Linked DNA regions of Homo sapiens: region 2 is linked to region 1. The links come from fine-mapping of genetic effects on gene expression. A gene starts in region 1. The other region holds a variant in brackets. All regions are shown on one strand. Distances are from middle to middle. Region 1 holds the start of CHRNA2 (cholinergic receptor nicotinic alpha 2 subunit). Region 2 has its middle 42 kb from the start of MIR6843.

What was found. PIP is the estimated chance that this variant, and not a neighbour inherited with it, causes the effect.
Region 2: its variant is fine-mapped to the expression of CHRNA2 in cerebellar hemisphere (GTEx, PIP 0.99). The same link has a PIP of 0.9 or more in cerebellum.

The regions. Positions count from the first base shown.
Region 1 is chr8:27,474,915-27,483,628 of GRCh38, reverse strand. It overlaps CHRNA2 (cholinergic receptor nicotinic alpha 2 subunit), which reads left to right and starts at 4,368. Exons shown (of 7, transcript NM_000742.4): 1 at 4,368-4,805.
Region 2 is chr8:27,564,414-27,573,127 of GRCh38, reverse strand. No RefSeq gene overlaps it. Among named protein-coding and RNA genes, the nearest start is that of MIR6843, 42 kb to the left of the region's middle. The variant A/T (reference allele first, on the strand shown) is at 4,568.

The sequences.
Region 1 (8,714 bases):
GGGAGGCAGAGGTTGTGCTGAGCCGAGATCGCACCATGGCACTCCAGCCTGGGCAGCAAGAGCGAAACTCCATCTCAACAGCAACAGCAACAACAACAAAATGAATTGGGAAGGTTTCCATGATAAATGCCATGGAGCCTTCCTTACCAATGAAAAATGTTTCTCTTTCTCTGCCTGATGAGCCTGTTCCTGCCTAAGCTGAAAATCCTGTCACATCCTTGCCTGAAGGATACACCACACACCCCAGGTAAACCAGTTTTCTTCATGATCCACCCCCTCCCTGCCTCTAGACTTCAACTAGAGTCAGATCCCTACATGTCCTGGCAGGTGGGGCATGGGAAAACCTGAGAAGAAACGTAAAACACACCCCAAGTCTGCAAGATTCTGCTTGTTTGTGGTCACAATCTGGTGAATATACACAGGAATAGACTCTTGAGGTCCTAGACCAAGGACAGAAAGTTGAAGTGGAGTTTGGCTGACAGGGGTGTGCTTTCTAAAGATTTGGGTTTAGTCTACAAAGTCGAACAGCTGGAGAAAGTACTCACAGTTTGCTCAACTGGTAGTCCATGCAAAGTGAAGATGAGATACCAGAAATTAGTTCAATGTAATGGAAGACTTGGAGGAACAGGAATATTGGAATGGATTTCTTAATATATGACCTGCTCGCCTTCCTCCTGATGTGGAAGGACTCATCAGAGACCTCTTTTTCCAAGACCTTGAGAGGTGCATTGGTGAGGAAGAACCATCATCTCAATTACAGGAAAGTGCAGGAAGTGGTTTGAACCTTCAGTCCGAAGGTTAGAGTTAGGGAAACTTCTCAGTGCATGGCTGTATTAGTCCATCCTCACATTGCTGTAAATACCTGAGACTGGGTAATTTATAAAGAAAAGAGTCTTAATTGGCTCACGGTTTGCAGGCTGTACAGGAAGCATGGCTGGGGAGGCCTCAGGAAACTTACGGTTATGGCAGAAAGCAAAGGGGAAGCAGGCACGTCTTCACATTGCTACAACAGAAGGAAGAAGAGAGAAGGGGGAGATTCTACACTCTCTTAAACACCAGATCCTGTGAGAACTCACTCACTATCATGAGAAGAGCAAGGGAGAAATCCACCCTTACGATCCAGTCACCTTCCACCACACCCCACCTCCAACATTGGGGATTACAATTTAACACGCGATTTAGGTGGCAACACAAATCCAAACCTATCAATGGCACATGTCCATCATCTGTCTGCTGAAGGAGGAAGCAAGAGGAAGCTGTGTAGTGCCCCCTACCTAACAAAACCATAAATGCAATTAATACAATGTCTCCAGAGGAATCCCAAGGATTAGGGCCACCAGCAAAGGCTGTAAGGATGCAGAAGTGGTAATTTTGATGATCTCCAAATGCTACCTAAGGTAGATGGGTCTCATAGAATGTCAGTGGTTCATTGTAAACTTAAGTGATTCCGATTACAGAAGCTGTTCCCAATGTGGCCCGAATGCTCATCTTCCCAGCAGTAGTGGCAAACCCTGGTCTCTGGATGTGCTGGCAGAGCCCAGAGGTTCAAATTATTCACTTGGTGGCAAGTTGATTGTAGTGAATGCCTTATATGCTTGAGAAGGCAGCAATCTGGCTTTTGTGGAATACAGTAGATGCTTATTCTGGAGAATGGCTGGAGAGGAAACCAATACATACCCACTCTAACCTCATGATCTATTACTACAATGAGCACTGTACCTGTCTGTATTTTCTTACTGGCTTTGCTAATTTATTTCATATTCTGCCCACCCCATTACTTTCTATGTGTGTATTTTGAGTGAACGTTATGATTTATTCCATAGAAAACAGAATTTCAAGGTGGCACATGTGTCAGGAATTAGAGCAGGAGGCTGGACTTGGAGCTGGATGGTCACTGGTGAGACTTGGGGTTCTATCCCTGTGGAGTTAGGGTGGGGTTAGGGGGAGGCTTTTTGCTTGTGTGAGGAATGGTTGCATTCTGCTAGATTCTACATTTGTATGTTTGGCATCCACTATATGCACGGCCAAACTAACAGCCAACTTTGTTACATCTCCCCTGCAATCAGCTTTTGCAGGTGCACTACAGTTATAGTACAAGCCCTCTGCCTAATCTTGACTCAGTATCCCCAACAGCACCATTTGTCTAACTCTCACACACCGAGCCAGTATTCCTCCTGCCACAAATCACCTCAGAGCTAGGTACTGGGCAATTAGAGACCATCCCTATAGCTCAGAGCCCACCAAGATTATTCCAACTATCTCATCGCAAGCTGCTTCCTTGCACTGCCCTGGTTTTCCCGGGGAAACCTCATAAAGGCTCGGGGCCAGGCTTCCCACATTGTGCCCTCCACCTCCTGACACTCCCTGGTGCTGCTCTGTGTGGCCCTGCGGGAATGTGCCACCCCTCCTGTTTCTAGGGATCTGTGAGTATAAACTCCTTCCTTTATGACAGTCACTTCTGTGTCTGCATGTCTTACCAAACCTGATTAAAACAAATTCTGGGTGAAAATTTTAGGACAATTAGATGTAAACATTTTTTTTCAAAGTGTGATGATGGAAAGTCGAGTGTGCACTGATGTTAGGAGCCAAAGAGCTAGATTTCGTGTGGCGGGGAGGGGGGTGCTTTCCAGCATTGAAACAACTTTCAAATATTTCAGGAATGTCCCCCCTCTTGAAGTGGGCAGAGCCCACCTTCCACATAGAAGCTCAAAACCCCAGATTCCTGCTTCCTTGGCCTTCCTGGCATCTGGTTTGGGAGCACATGCTTTAATCAGATGCATCTGTTTCGACCTTTGTATGCAGAGCTAGTGACACAAAGGAGCAGGGCTGGAGGAGAATTAACTGTGGCAGCGGTGGCAGCAGCAGGGATGGCTGCTTCCAGGGACAGCGGTGACAGCGGCACCCATGACGGTGCCAGGTTCACATGCAGCTCTGTAGCAGCAGGACCCACCATGCTGGCCGCGGGGCAGAGGCTTCCCTCTTCTCCCTGCTCTCCAAGCAGCCCCTCCAGATTTCTAGGTGCTTCTGTGAACCACCCGTTGTTCCTCAATAAAACCATTCTCCACTTAAAGTAATTGGTAGGTTTTTATTGCTTGCAACCAAGAATCCTGATGGATACAAGCTGTGATTTTCTTTTCTTTTCTTTCCTTTCCTTTCCTTTCTTTTCTTTTTTCTTATTTCTTCCCTCCTTCCCTTCCTTCCTTCCTTCAGTCTCCAAATGAAAAATGTATACATCTAACTTTATATATATGTAAATATGGTAAAATATTAACATTTATTAATTATGAATAGTGGAAATATGAGTGTTTATGGTTTTTTGGTATTTTATGTCTTTTAATTCTCTCAAAAGATGATTCTAGCAATCGCATGCACATGTGTACACACAATGCACGTGTGTGTTTGTGTTTATTTGTGCTAATTGACTCCTCATAGTAAACCTATGAGGCAGGAGCCATTGTTCACATCCTCTTTTTACATCTGAGGAAACTGAGGCATAGGAAGCTGAAGAGGCCTGTCCAGGATTATGCAGCTGTTCAAGAGCAGAGCTAGAAATTCAGCCTCAGCAGTCTGTGGCCGGGTCATGTCCAGGGCCTTTGCTTTTAACAAAATAAGGGAGATGAGCTAGCAAGTAGCTTGAGGGAAAGGCCGAAAGCAGAGTGTTTTTAGGGTGGAGGATGAGCTTCTTTAGGGGCTGAAGGGAAGGAACGAGTGGGGCAGAGAGGGAGGATCTGAGAAAGCCCAGGCTGTTAATAGATGGGGTGATGTCAAGATCACAGTGGGCCAGGATTCGCCATGCACAGGAGGAGACAGGAGTACTCATCTGATACTAGAGAAAAGGAGGCTTCACCGGAAAATCAAAGGCAAGGTCACCTGCAAGGAGGCTGACGGGGTGACAGAGAAGCAGCCACACCGGGTGGCCGCGCAAGTGACCGGTGGTCCTCTAGGGTGGTGGGGGGAGGGGTCTCACAGGGGAGGAGGGCAAGGAGAGAACCGTGGGCTGGCTGGCAGCTCTGTCCTTACTCCAATTTTTCCGATGCTATTTACTGACTTAGAAGGTAAATACATTCCAAGGTTCTTCAAGTTCTTTACAGCTGGGCTTGTTCCAAGGCTGGAATTTGTGAAGTGGATTCACATACAGTGAAGCTGTATTGACAGACAGACCCAGGACCCAGGACCCAGAACCTGTGGGTGCACTCAGGGGCCCCAGGCAGTGATCCTGGAGCCCAGGGGTCCAGAGAGCAGGGAAGGGAGCATCGTGGTGACTGGACAGAGCTGCATCTGTCCCCACCGGACATAGGCTGGAGAGTCACAGGCTCCTCCTCCTTCCCCTCCAGAGAGGCTGTGTGTGTGTGTGTGTGTGTGTATGTGTGTGTGTGTGTGAGAGAGAGAGAGAACAGCGTGAGCCTGTGTGCTTGTGTGCTGAGCCCTCATCCCCTCCTGGGGCCAGGCTTGGGTTTCACCTGCAGAATCGCTTGTGCTGGGCTGCCTGGGCTGTCCTCAGTGGCACCTGCATGAAGCCGTTCTGGCTGCCAGAGCTGGACAGCCCCAGGAAAACCCACCTCTCTGCAGAGCTTGCCCAGCTGTCCCCGGGAAGCCAAATGCCTCTCATGTAAGTCTTCTGCTCGACGGGGTGTCTCCTAAACCCTCACTCTTCAGCCTCTGTTTGACCATGAAATGAAGTGACTGAGCTCTATTCTGTACCTGCCACTCTATTTCTGGGGTGACTTTTGTCAGCTGCCCAGAATCTCCAAGCCAGGCTGGTTCTCTGCATCCTTTCAATGACCTGTTTTCTTCTGTAACCACAGGTAAGAAAGGTACCCAAGGCTTATGTTGAGGGCGGCATGCATGTGGAGAGCTTGTGGATATGGGGTCAAAGAAATACTAGCAGTTTCTGGGTACTCAGGAGGGGGTTATGTCTGAATGCTGGATGTCACCTGCTCCTAGAAATATTTTAGTCTCCTGGTTGTCCCTGCTGGAGCTGTCCACAGCCAGGTGACGATGAACACCTCCTGGCTAGGATGGCTAGCCCAGTCTCAGGAATAGTGGCTTTGTTACACTGTATCTGCTCCTATGTCTTTACTACTGCTGTCCATTCTTTTGTTCATTTATTTACTCATTCTGTAAATTGTCTATGTCCTTTAAAAGGGCTAAAAGACAGCAATGCTATTTACTGACTTAGAAGGTAAATACCTTCCAAGGTTCTTCAAGTTCTTTACAGCTGGGCTTGTTCCAAGGCTGGCATTTGTGAAGTGGATTCCTCCATCAGCTGGTGTGGTTGTTCAGATGACCTTCAAGATCCCACCCAACCTTGAGTGTTAAACTTCTGTGATTGAGCAAAACAGATATAAAAGCTAGAATTACACTCTCTAGCCCCTAAGCACCTTGAGTGCATTTATTTGGAAGAAGAAATCATACTGGTTTCTCTAATGGAGGGGCTTCTTTGGGAGTGTAATGTTGCCAGTTGTGAAAAAGCTGAGACCTGTATGCTTGGGGAGGTTCTGGACAGCAGAAAGGAACCAGGTGGGATGGAAGCAGCCTTTTGGGAGAAGGAAATGTTAGTAAAAAGAGGAGAATGTGGACTGGTGGGTGAGAAGTTGAAAACAGAATTAGTAGAACCATGGACAGGGAAGTGAGCTCAAATCACCTTGACCTCCACGGAACCAGGATTCAGGCAGGCTAGAGATGCTGCAGTGAGTGTGGGGGTGGGGTGGGGGTGGCCTGGAACTGGTGTACGTGAGCAGCGACACAAGCCCAGTGGGGACACTGATGTCCGAGCACTTTACGTATGCAATCTCTTTTACATAGGCTTCTCTGTGTACCCCATTCACCCAGACCCACTTTACAATTAGGGACCTCATCCCACTCTCTCCCCTTCCCCAAATCTGCCAATCCAGCCACTTAGAGGGTCAAAGTGTGCAGCTCTTTTTTTTTTGACATCTTCCTAACCAGAGGTGGAAGTTCCCTCTAATTACTGTCAATCACCTGGAACAATTCCTCCTTTGGTTTCCAGTGACAAATTAAATGAAATGATATAGTGGGCTTATCACAGGGGATGCAGGTTTGAGGCATCTTGCTGGGAATACATCCTCTAGAGTCACTGCATCTTATTTGCACATTCTTCTGGGGGTTCCCGGGTGGCTCTCCTTGGATCTCTAAATGATGCAATGTTAGCATGCTTGGATTCCTATTCTCACTAATGGAGAAAAAAAAATCTCCTTTTTAAAAAATGCACTTGGTTAAAAGGTGAAACAGATGATAGCTTTGGAATTTGCAACTATGATATTGGTTGGCTGGATGAGAAAGTGAATCTGCACTAGAGGAACCTGCTAGAATCTGGGATCCAGGTGGGCCTAGCTTTGGGGTGAGGTGCCTGTCCCCTCTCCTCACTTGTCCTCAACAGACCTCAGTCCTGATGGTGGCTTAGCAATGACAGACACAGTGCTAGGGTCTACGGAACACAGGTGAGTACTGGCTGAATTGCTAATACGAAATCGCCCCCCTAGTTAACACCACGTTATAATTTATCGCATTCTAGTTTCGAAGCTAAAGATCTTAGCTTGAATCTCAGCTTTATCACTTTTTATCTATATGGCTTTGGTCAACTTCTCTGAACATCAGTTTTTTTTTTTTTTTACTTACATGAAAGGGATAATTATATCTCTTCCCCACACCCTCCTAGGGGTCACGTGAGGCCCAAATAGGTGAAAGCTGCAAAAGTACCTTGTAAACCTGAAAACAACATAAATGCACAGTGTTCTTAGGAAGACGTTTTAGGAATTAACATCAAGGGGGATTCTGAAATCCTCGTTCCCTGCCCCAAATCAGCCCTGTGTTCTAATATCTAGTAAAAACTTCACGCCTGTATGAAAGTAGACATAAGCAATGGAATTTCACAACTCTTTTTTATTTTAACTAGCAAATGAAACTTCTAGATGGCACTGAGCCACAGGTAAATGGGGAAGGGTGTGGGATCTTTGAGGATCCTAAATCCTCCAGGTAGAAAGGATGAAAGAGACAAGAGACAAGGAACCAGAAAGGCAGCTTTGTGATTGTCAGGTGTTTGAATGATTGCGGAGAGCAGAGAAAAAAACTTCACCTGCTCTGCAGTTTCCCCTGGGTATTAACGAGATTTAATCTCGGATAACAACACTAGGGTCTCTAAACTCAACTCAACACAACTCAAGCATCTCTCAGATGCTTATGCAGATTCAGACTCGAGGAAAAGCTTCCCAATGTGGAGAGTTGTAAAAAGCCTGGAAAGGATGCCTCAGGGAACTTGGGGCCTCCCTGGATGGCTTTGGAAGCAATGGGGCTAAATGAATAAAGTCATGCCCCACATTAGGGGTGGACGAGTGGATGAGACTCTAGCATTTTCCTTCCTTTTGGTTCTTCTCTACTCAAGCTCACTCAGTTCCCTGTTCCTAGTGCCTGGCACACTGTTGGCCCTGATGAAGAATGAGGTAGTACATTCTCTTACAGTCCAAGCATGAAACAACAACAACAACAAAATGAATGAGGTAGTGGAAAGATAAACAAAGAAAAGGATAAACAATCACACTATGAATGCAAATGTTTGATGCAGTGCTGCTCCCCAAATTAAGTGAGAAGCCTTAGTCTCCTTCCTCAGGCTCTTGGAGCCCTCCTCCTGCCCTGGGTACCTTTTGCAGGTAGCTCTGAACACCTGGAACCCACAAAGTAAGCTGGGGCTGTGCTTGGGGCTGGAGGGAAGAGGTGAATAAGATACAGTGGTCACCCTTAAGGAGTGACCTCACGACAGGAAGTTCCACTTTTCTCTGAAAGTCCCATTTGACCTTTCAGATCAATGTAGCGATCCCATTTCCTAGGCCTCAGCCCTAAGGTGATTCCAGATGAACACAGCTGACCTTTAAAAAGACTATTTTTGTGGTAAAATATACATAACATAATTTACCATAATAATGTAACCATTATTAACTGTATATAGTTCATCGTGTTAAGAACATTCACATTGTTGTGTAGACATCACCACTGTCCATCTGTAGATTTTTTTCATCATCCCAAATGAAACTCCGTACCCATTGAACAATAACTCCTCACTCCCCTCCCCCTAGCTCCTGGCACCCACCATTCTACTTTCTGTCTCTATGAATTTGACTATTCTAGGAACATCCTATAAAAGGAATCATAATGTCTTTGTCTTTTTGTAACTGGCTTATTTTACATAGCATAATGCCCTCAAGTTTCATCCACGTTGTAGCATGGGTCAGAATTTCTGTCCTTTTTAAGGACAAATAATATTCCACTGTATGGATAGACCACATTTGTTCAACCATTCATCTGTCGCTGGATACCGGAGTTGCTTCCACTTTTTACACAGCTGATTGATGAACTGCACTGCATTCTGATGGAAGAGTGGAGTCAAATCTACACAGTTTGGGTGAGCTCCTGCTGCTGTGAGATGAGGGGAGGGCTTGTAAAACACATCACAGGTATTGCTGCCTGCTTGAAAATTATTTTTATATTAAGTGACCGATACATGTTGATAGTGGGAAATTTGGAAAATGCAGAAAACTGTCAAAAAGAATAATAATCACCTCTAATTCCTGCGCCCAGAGATAACACAGGTGATCTATTTGTATGCAGAAAAGAGATTAAAAGAGAAAAGAGCAAGATGGTAAAGCTGTCTCTGGAAATCAGTTAGCTGTGCTGTTTCCTTTGCAATGGTCTGCTTTGGG
Region 2 (8,714 bases), 89 kb before region 1:
TGCAGCATTGACGCCTCCATCCTGGGCACCCAGCACCATTGCTTCCAGAGCACCGCCCTCCTATGGTCCTCAGTCTTCTCTCACCATCCCCTTTGTTTCCTTCATGGCAGCCTCTGCGTCCTCTCACCCGTGGAATGCTCCTGTCCTCGAAGGCCCTCTTGTCACCCAAACCCATTCTCCCTGGGTGTCCCCTCCACTCTTGCGGTCACTTGTCTTGGAGCTGATGACCCTTGTTATGGCCTGAACTGTGCCTCCTCCAAAGTCCTACGTTGAGTTCCTAACCCCTGGCACCTCAGAATGTGACTGTCTTTGGAGACTGTGTCTTTAAAGAGGTGATTAGGGTTCAGTGAGGTCATATGAAGGGGCCCTAATCCAATGTGACTGGTGTCCTTATAGGAACAGGAGATTAGGAACATAGGCACACAGAGAGATGACCATGTGAGGACACAGGAAGAAAGTGGCCATGTGCAAGCCAAGGAGAGAGGCTCAGGAGAAACCAACCCTGCCAGCACCTTCACCTTGAACTTCTTACCTCCAGAACCACAAGGGAATAAATATCTGCTGTTGAAGCTGCCCAGCCTGTGGTATTTGCTATGGCCTCTCTAGCTGGTGAATATGACATCTCAATCTGTACCTCCAGCCCCTGAGTTCCTGAACTTCAAAGCAGCTGCTCCGACACTTCCGCTTGAGACCCCTCGAACTCAAGTTCCCAAAGGAAACAATCACCTTGTTGCCCCTGCCGAGCCTCCTGGATTCTCTACTGATGGTGGCCCCATCATCCTTGACTCTTCCTTCCTGCCACCTCACCACACACTCAGCTGCCGAGTCCTGTTGGTTCCTCATCCTAAATACCTCTTGAACATGGACCCTGAGAAAATGGACTTGGCTCTGTATTCCAGCCCCTAGGATCCTCTCCAGGCCATGCTCACTCTGCCCAGCCTCGTCCACACCTCCTTCCCATGTTCCGGACTTGAGGCATGGTCTTTGCCTCGGCCGTCTCTGCCAGGCTTGAATTATTTCTTTAGCTCCTGGGTAGGCCCTCTGCACTGGATACTGCCTTCAACTTCAAGCCCCAAGGGCAGGCTGGCTCCTCTGCTGGTCCTGGAGGCCCAGCTCTAAGGCTGAAGTTCCTTCACGAGTCCACGCGCAGAGCTTAACCTCAGTGCACAGACCAAGACGGGCTGCTCTGGGACCCCTCGCTGCATGCTATTTCCATAATTCCCTGTATGTTAGAAACCGTTTAACTGAGAAAGGCTGGTGTACTTGGTTCAGAGACAGCAGGAATGAGCCAAGCAAAAGACCTATTATCACTTCTGCAGCCAGTCCAGTCCAGGCCAGAAGGACCCTGAAGGGCAGAGATGACGGCAGGAGCTGCTGAGGGGGAGAGATGCAGGCTGTCCTGGAGGGGACTGTTGAGGAGAAGAAAGGGTCACTGGGCTGCCCAGCACAGGCCTGACAAAGGTCCCTCCCTGGGTTGCACCTCTGTGGGAGTCCCTGCCACATTCTGCTGCATAGCCAGGAGGGAGCGTTCACTCCTGACAGGCAGAGAGGGGAAAGGCCACGATCAACAGAGGCATGAGGGCTGGAGGAAAATCTCTTCCGTCTTCATGGTGGGAGCTCAGAATGGTATTTCATGGCTCTCAAGGTGAGCCCATGGGTCATATGAGCCCCAAATGCCAAATCCACAATCCCTCTCAATCAGCATGCCTGGCACTGGGCAGAATATGAAAATGCCTTTTAAACCCTGTTTGGTGTGAACAAGTGGCCTTGGTGAACCCCTTGGCACTGCTCTGAGGGACTGTGGCTGGTTGAAGCACACCCAAGGTCACCCCAAAAAGCTCAGAGTCTGGGACGGCTCCAGGTGGAGCCGTGTGGGCCAGTGAACATCCAGCCTCCCTTCCTCATTCCAGTGTCCTCCTCCCTGCCCCTTTCCTCACGGGGCTCCCTGGCTCAGGCATGCCTTTTCAAAGCCCAACAATTCTACGGAATGCTCTTGTCCTGAACTTGCCCCACTCTCTTGGGCTAAGACATCAGGCATCTCATTTGCTGAATGATTTCTGCAGGCCCAGCATTGGCACCTCAGGGATCCATGCTGTACCCCGGGAACTGTGGAATCACTTTTTCAACCACCAGTTGGGAGTTCTGGGTAAAGATTTTCCCCAAACTCATGCCTCTGAGGAGGGGGCTTCTGGAGTGAAGGTCTTTGCCCCAAGTCTTAAAGTATTAGAAATTCCAGTGGGAAGGATTTTAGACTGGGGGCTAGAAAACAAGTTTCTGTTTGTCACCTACTGAGTGCCATGCGGGGCATGTTTGAACACTAAACTAGATGCTTTACATGTATTATCTGGCTTAATCCTCAGATTCAATACTTTAAGGTAGACATTATTAACACTCTCCGTAGATGAGGAAACTAAGGCTCAGCAGGATTAAATGACTGGCACACGCTCACAGCTTAGGAATTGCAGAGCCAGCATTCAAAATTGGGTTCATTTGATTTCAAAGCCCATGATCTTCATCTTCTTGAGTCAGTACTGCTCAAATTATTGCCAACTCCATCTGCACAGAGGATCTGCTCATATTGAATCCTTATTCAATATGACTAGAGAAGAGCCCAAACTTCAAGGAACTTGAAACCATAGATTTGAGTCCTATGGCTTAGTGAATATGAAGAATGGATCTAGGATTCCAGGCACTTCAGGTATGCTGCATACCACCCACCCATCCATCCATCTCTTCATCTATCTATCCATCCATCATCCATTCTCCCATCTCTTCATCCGTCCATCCATCCCTTCATCCATCCAACCATCCATCCATCATCCATCCTTCCCTTTATCCATCCAGCTATCCATCCATCCATCCATCCGTCCATCCATCCATCCATCCATCCCTTCATCCATCCATGCATCCATCCCTTCATCCATCCCTTCATCCATCCATCCATCCATTTGTCCATCCATCCATCCCTTCATTCATCCCTCAAACCAACCATCCATCCATCTATCCATCCCTTCATCCATCCATCCAACCATTCAACCATCCAGCTATCCATTCATCCACTCATCCCTTCATCCATCCATCCAACCATCCATCCATCCATCCCTCTAACCAACCAACCATCCATCCATCCATCCATCCATCCATCCCTTCATCCACCCATCCAACCATCCATCCATCTATCCACCCATCCATCCATCTATCCACCCATCCTTCCCTCCATCCATTCATCCATTCATCCATCCATCCCTTCATCCATCCCTCCAACCAACCAACCATCCATCCATCCATCCCTTCATCTATCCCTCCAACCAACCAACCATCCATCCATCCATTCATCCATCCATCCCTTCATCCATCCCTTCAACCAACCATCCATCCATCCATTCATCCATCCATCCCTTCATTCATCCCTCCAACCAACCAACCATCCATCTATCCATCCATCCATCCATCCCTTCATCCATTCAACCATCCATCCATCCATCAATCCATCCATCCGTCCCTTCATCCATCCCTTTATCTATCCCTCTACCCATCTAGTCCTTCATCCATCCATCCATCCATCCATTTGTCCATACAACACTGTTTTTCATTCATTCAAAAAGCACTGCTATAAATTACAAGCCCCCCGTTATCCAGATCCAAATACCCTGCATGTCACCTTAAGCAGCCAAATAAGCCTGAAAATGACTCCACCCACCTTGCTGTGAAGAAACCATTATAAAGGGAATCCCAGGCATATCCTCTGGGGCTCAGTGCAGCTGAGGGTTAATGCCCTCCCAGGAGCGGCAGCTCACACCAGCCTCATGTCTCCTGTGGCAAGTCTCTACTCAACCCCTTTTCCTGCCCATGCCTCTGCTACCTCCTGCAGTTCCTCCAGGTTCACTGACCTGCTCAGAAGGGTCCTGGCCACAGTGTCCCCAGGGCCAAGGAAAGGGTGGTGAGGTCATCTCCCTTGCCCCAATTCAGGGGGCCTGAAGAGCCAGGGTCTACTGTCACAACCTGAGGGGTCTCATTGTCATGGGAAAGAACAGTAGAGATGGGGAAAGGGAGGCTATGCTTAAGTGGGCATCAGTTCCCCACAGGGGGTGGGCCCAACACTGCATGAGGGGACCTGGGTTATCCTCCCAGAACCGCTGCCCATGCACCCTGTGGGCCTCACAGTCAGGATGCAGCAAGGCCTCCTCTGCCCAGGGCAGCTCTAAGAGGAGACTAGGCTTCAAGGAGCCATGGGTTCCTGGGGGAAGGGCCTTGGGAAGACAAAATGAGGATGTGTGTGCATCTGGGGTCAGGCCAGCCCAGGAGCCAGGGTCCCAGGCACTTCTCTGCCTATTGCTTTTCCTGGGCAATGTGTTGGCCAAGCTGTCCCTCCCCTCATCCACGTGCCCATCCACCTTCGGAACTAGATCCTCCTATTCAGCCACACCCAGCCAGATGTCTTTGGGTTTCTGCAAAGACCAGGGTGCCCAGTGGAAATCTGATGACTGACTTCTACACCTTCCCCTGGCATCTCCAGAGGAAACCTCTCTTGACGCTGTTTAAGCACTTCACACTCCGCTACCTGCTA[A/T]TTTTGATGGAAATTGCTTTTGACATGTGCAGTTGGTGGCCAGGAGCTTGGGGTGAGAGAACACATAAAGCTGAACTAATTCTCATTAACAGTGAGCAAAGACCAGAGATAGGAAATTGGCAGAAATGGGGCACCTGGGGAGCAGGGTGAGGGCATCAGAATGAGTTTTACAAAAGCTAGCTTTTGTCTAAGATCCAGGGAAGCAAATGAGAGCTGGCCTGCAAAACACTTCCACAGGATCCAGAAACCAATGCGCAACAGGCACTGTCTTTGCTAGCTGTATGACCTCGGGTGTGTTATTCAGCCTGTTTCCTCGTTTGTAAAATGGAGATAATAGTTATAACTATTGAGGTGAGGATAAAATGAGGGAATATCAGGGTAAGTTGTGAAAAAAAACAGCAGCCCCTTCCACTGGCTTCCAGACCTGCTCAGCTGGGCTCCTAAGAAAAGCCAGAAACTCTTGTGTGTATTTTGATCTGTGGCCACTCAATGACTTTCTTTTTCTTTTTTTTTATTATTTTTTTATTTTTTGAGATGGAGTTTTGCTCTTGTTGCCCAGGCTAGAGGTGAGATCTCGGCTCACTGCAACCACTGTCTCCCAGGTTCAAGCGATTCTCCTGCCTCAGGCTCCCGAGTAGCTAGGATTACAGGTGTCTGCCACCACACCCGGCTAATTTTTTGTATTTTTAGTAGAGTCGGGGTTTCACCATGTTGGCCAGACCGGCTTCGAACTTCTGACTGCAGGTGGTCCGCCCGCCTCGGCCTCCCAAAGTGCTGGGATTACAGGTGAGCCACTGCGCCCAGCCTCAATGACATTCATACTTTGCTGATCATTTTGTAGAAACTGAGGCAACCGATTTGACATAAGTCCTGGATAGTGGACTAGGACTGGGGCCAAATCTTGAGGAAGGGGGTGGCTCTCATGTCATCCTTCACCCTCAGTTACCACTGGGCTCCCTCGGGCAGTGAACCCAGCTTTGAGGAGGAAATGAGAATGTCCATGCTGGGCTCTGGGGAATCAGGACCCACACATCCCTCTATGCTTTGCTGCAAAGCCTCTTACCTGGGAGGGCGCAAGAATGATGGATGCGAATGGCCTCAGTCCTTCCCCTTCCGCAGCCCCATCCCCTCAGATGCTCCCGTCTTGCCTGGTGATTTTTTGAGGATTTTGTGATGAAAAGAGGGAGGAGGAGAAGGGCAAGGAGCAACGAGGGTGTGTATGTGATGCCCAAGAGAAAGCAGAGTGAGTTTTAAGGAGCAGTCACTGGGAATTAGGTTTCCCTTCACAGAATTCAAGAAATACAAATAAAAACAAAGTGCATCCCTTAGAAATTGCTTTTGGGCTGTTTTTATTTATTTACTAGAGACAGGGTCTCACTCCGTAGCCCAGGCTGGAGTGCAGTGGCGTGATCTCAGCTCACTGCACTCACTCTCCTGGGCTCAAGTGATCCTCCCACCTCGGCCTCCCAAGCTGGGACTACAGGCATGTGCCACCACACCTGGCTAATATTTAAATTTTTTTTTTTTTTTTTTTTGGTAGAGACGGGTTTTTGCCATATTGGCCAGGCTGATCTCGAACTCCGGGGCTCAAGTGATCTGCCCACCTCAGCCTCCCAAATCCTGGGATTACATGCATGAGCCACCATGCCCAGACTTGGGCTGTTTGCTTTTGGTCTCAGTGCTGCTCTGAGCCTGGACTACCTGGGGTCAAACTCCTAGAAGTCAGTCAGACAGTGTTTGCTTGGCTGCTTGCCTTCATCAGAACCCCTGGAGAAGGCAGGGTATGCTTAGTTGAGAGGAAACGTATGCAGAACCAAGAGGAAATTTGTGTAGTCGAGAGGAAACTTAGATGACCCATGTGGTCTAACCCCTGGCAATGCTGAAGCTTCTAAGTCAGCACCAAGTGTGGGCTCTGGAAAAGGGCTTGTCTTATAAGCAAAACCATCATAAACACTTATTGGGCACTAACTGTATACACTCTTCTAAGTCCCTCACATGCATGGCTATCATGAGCATTCCTATTTTCCAGGTAAGCAAACTGAGGTAGCCAGAGGTAAAGAGACCTGCCCCAGGTTACACAGACAATAGTGGTGGAGCCCCAGCACTTAGCCATGATGCTCCAGGGGCCAAAGCCACATGGCCCCTAGTGCAAATGGGCTCATACAGGAGAAAGAAAGCACAGCTGAGTGTGTGCACCACTGCACCAGCACAGGAGTGTCTTGTACGTCTCCGACAAATGAGCAGCCAGCCTCTGCAAGCACCCCAGCAGCCTGCTCCAGGGAGGCCCAGCCTGGCAGAGAGGAAGCCCCTCCTAATATTGAAAGCTCAAGGTGACTGCCCTCCAAAGGGTGGCTCCTGACACAGGCATCCGCTGAATTGTCCTCTGGTTGGCCACACATGTAACATGTGCTATCTAAGTTCCTCTTCAACGAGTTGAGGATTGCTCTCCCCATTGGGGGTGATGCTTTTTTACAGGGATGTCCAGAGAAGCTAAGCAACCAAATGTGCATTCCACACCCAGTGAGTGGTGGAGCCAGGCTTTGAACCCAGGGCTGAGTCCCAGACCTGTGCTCTTAACCAGTTCCCCAAATGGTCTCTTGTGAAGTGTAAGAAATGCTTTTTAATGACTATAAGGTAGGGGTTCCAGGTCCACAAGCACTGGGCTCCTATCCTGACCCCTCCCTGCACCTGCTAACCTGGACAGCCCCATCCCCTGCACAGCTCTGGCTCAGATCTTCAGTGGAGATGGCACCCCTTCCCTGCACCCCATCCCTGCCCATCCCTTCCCACAGGGTGGCAGTGAAGCTCCTAAGAGACGAAGGTGGGAGGGCACTGTGCAACTGTCAGAGCACCGACATGCAGCAGGGTCCCTTCCTCATCGTGACTGTCAGCCAGAGAAGGCAGTGACATACCTGGAGGGCACCTGTTGCATCTCTGCCAAAGGGGGCCAGCTGGGCTGGGTATGAGGCCCCCACAGAGCTGAGCCAGCACTGCAGGGGAAGCAGGTGGACTCACCTGGCTGGCCGGGGTGCCAGGCCTGATTCCCATGTTTTGCATTCCAGACCCAACGACGCCAGCTGCAGTCACATCTACCACTATGCCCAGGCTGGGCTCAGCAAGAAGCAAAAAGGACACAAGAGACCAGTTAGGCTTCCCGGGGCAGCAGGCACACTCCCAGGCACATCAGATTGAGGTGCGAGGCCCCTCAGGGCAGAAAAGTTTATTCAGTGCTGTCTGGGTTCTCATCCCAAATCTGCTATGACTTAGCTTGTGTGATGTGGCCTGCCTGTCTTCTCTCGGGGTCTCAGTTTCCTCATCTAAGTGGCCTGTTAGATGACCCAGTGGCGACATGGTTCAGGGCTGAGGGGAGGCCTGCCTGCCTGGCTCTGGGGGCCTCTGCAGCCCACAACACCCCTTTCTTCCTTTCCTCCAACCTCCATCTGCCAACAATAAATACCCTCTCCACAAACCAAAGGCCAAAATTCTCCTGCTAAGACTTCTCTTAGGTACCCAGCCTACCAAGGCCTGCAACATCCTCATGGAACCAGCCTGGTTCAGATCTCACAAATAAACATCCCAGAAAGGTTTGGGGAGATGAGAAAGGAGGAGGAGGAGGCCCTGTCACCTCTCCTGCTCAGAAACCTTCAGGGGCTCCAGGAGAAAGGCCTCATCCCTCAGCCTGGCGTTCCAGGCCCTAGAAGGAATAATGGGAGGCTTCCATGTGCACAGGAGGACAAGATCATGAAAGGAATCCTGTATCCCTTGGCAGGCGTGCACCATGGGGGCAGGAATTAGAAAGACCTGCCGATCTCAAGGTCAAGGACGAAGAGCGGATCAGGAGTTTAAAAAATCTTACTTCCCAGGAACTTTCTGAGTCATCTCAGCCCTAACTTAAAGGAGAAGGAAACAGATATTTTCTGAAGACCTCCAAGGGCTCAGGTGCCTGGAGCTTCACAAGCTGTGAGACAGCTTCCCCAGAGCCCAGCTGTCCTCAGCTCACACACAGTGCTCTCACAGGTAAAAGATGGGAGGGCAGGGATGTGGCAAGTTCCTCCATTGCAGACCGAGGGCCCTTGAGGGAGGCTGGAGGACACCAGAGGCTCCACATCTCCCACTTTGAACCCAACGTGACAATGATTAGGAAATC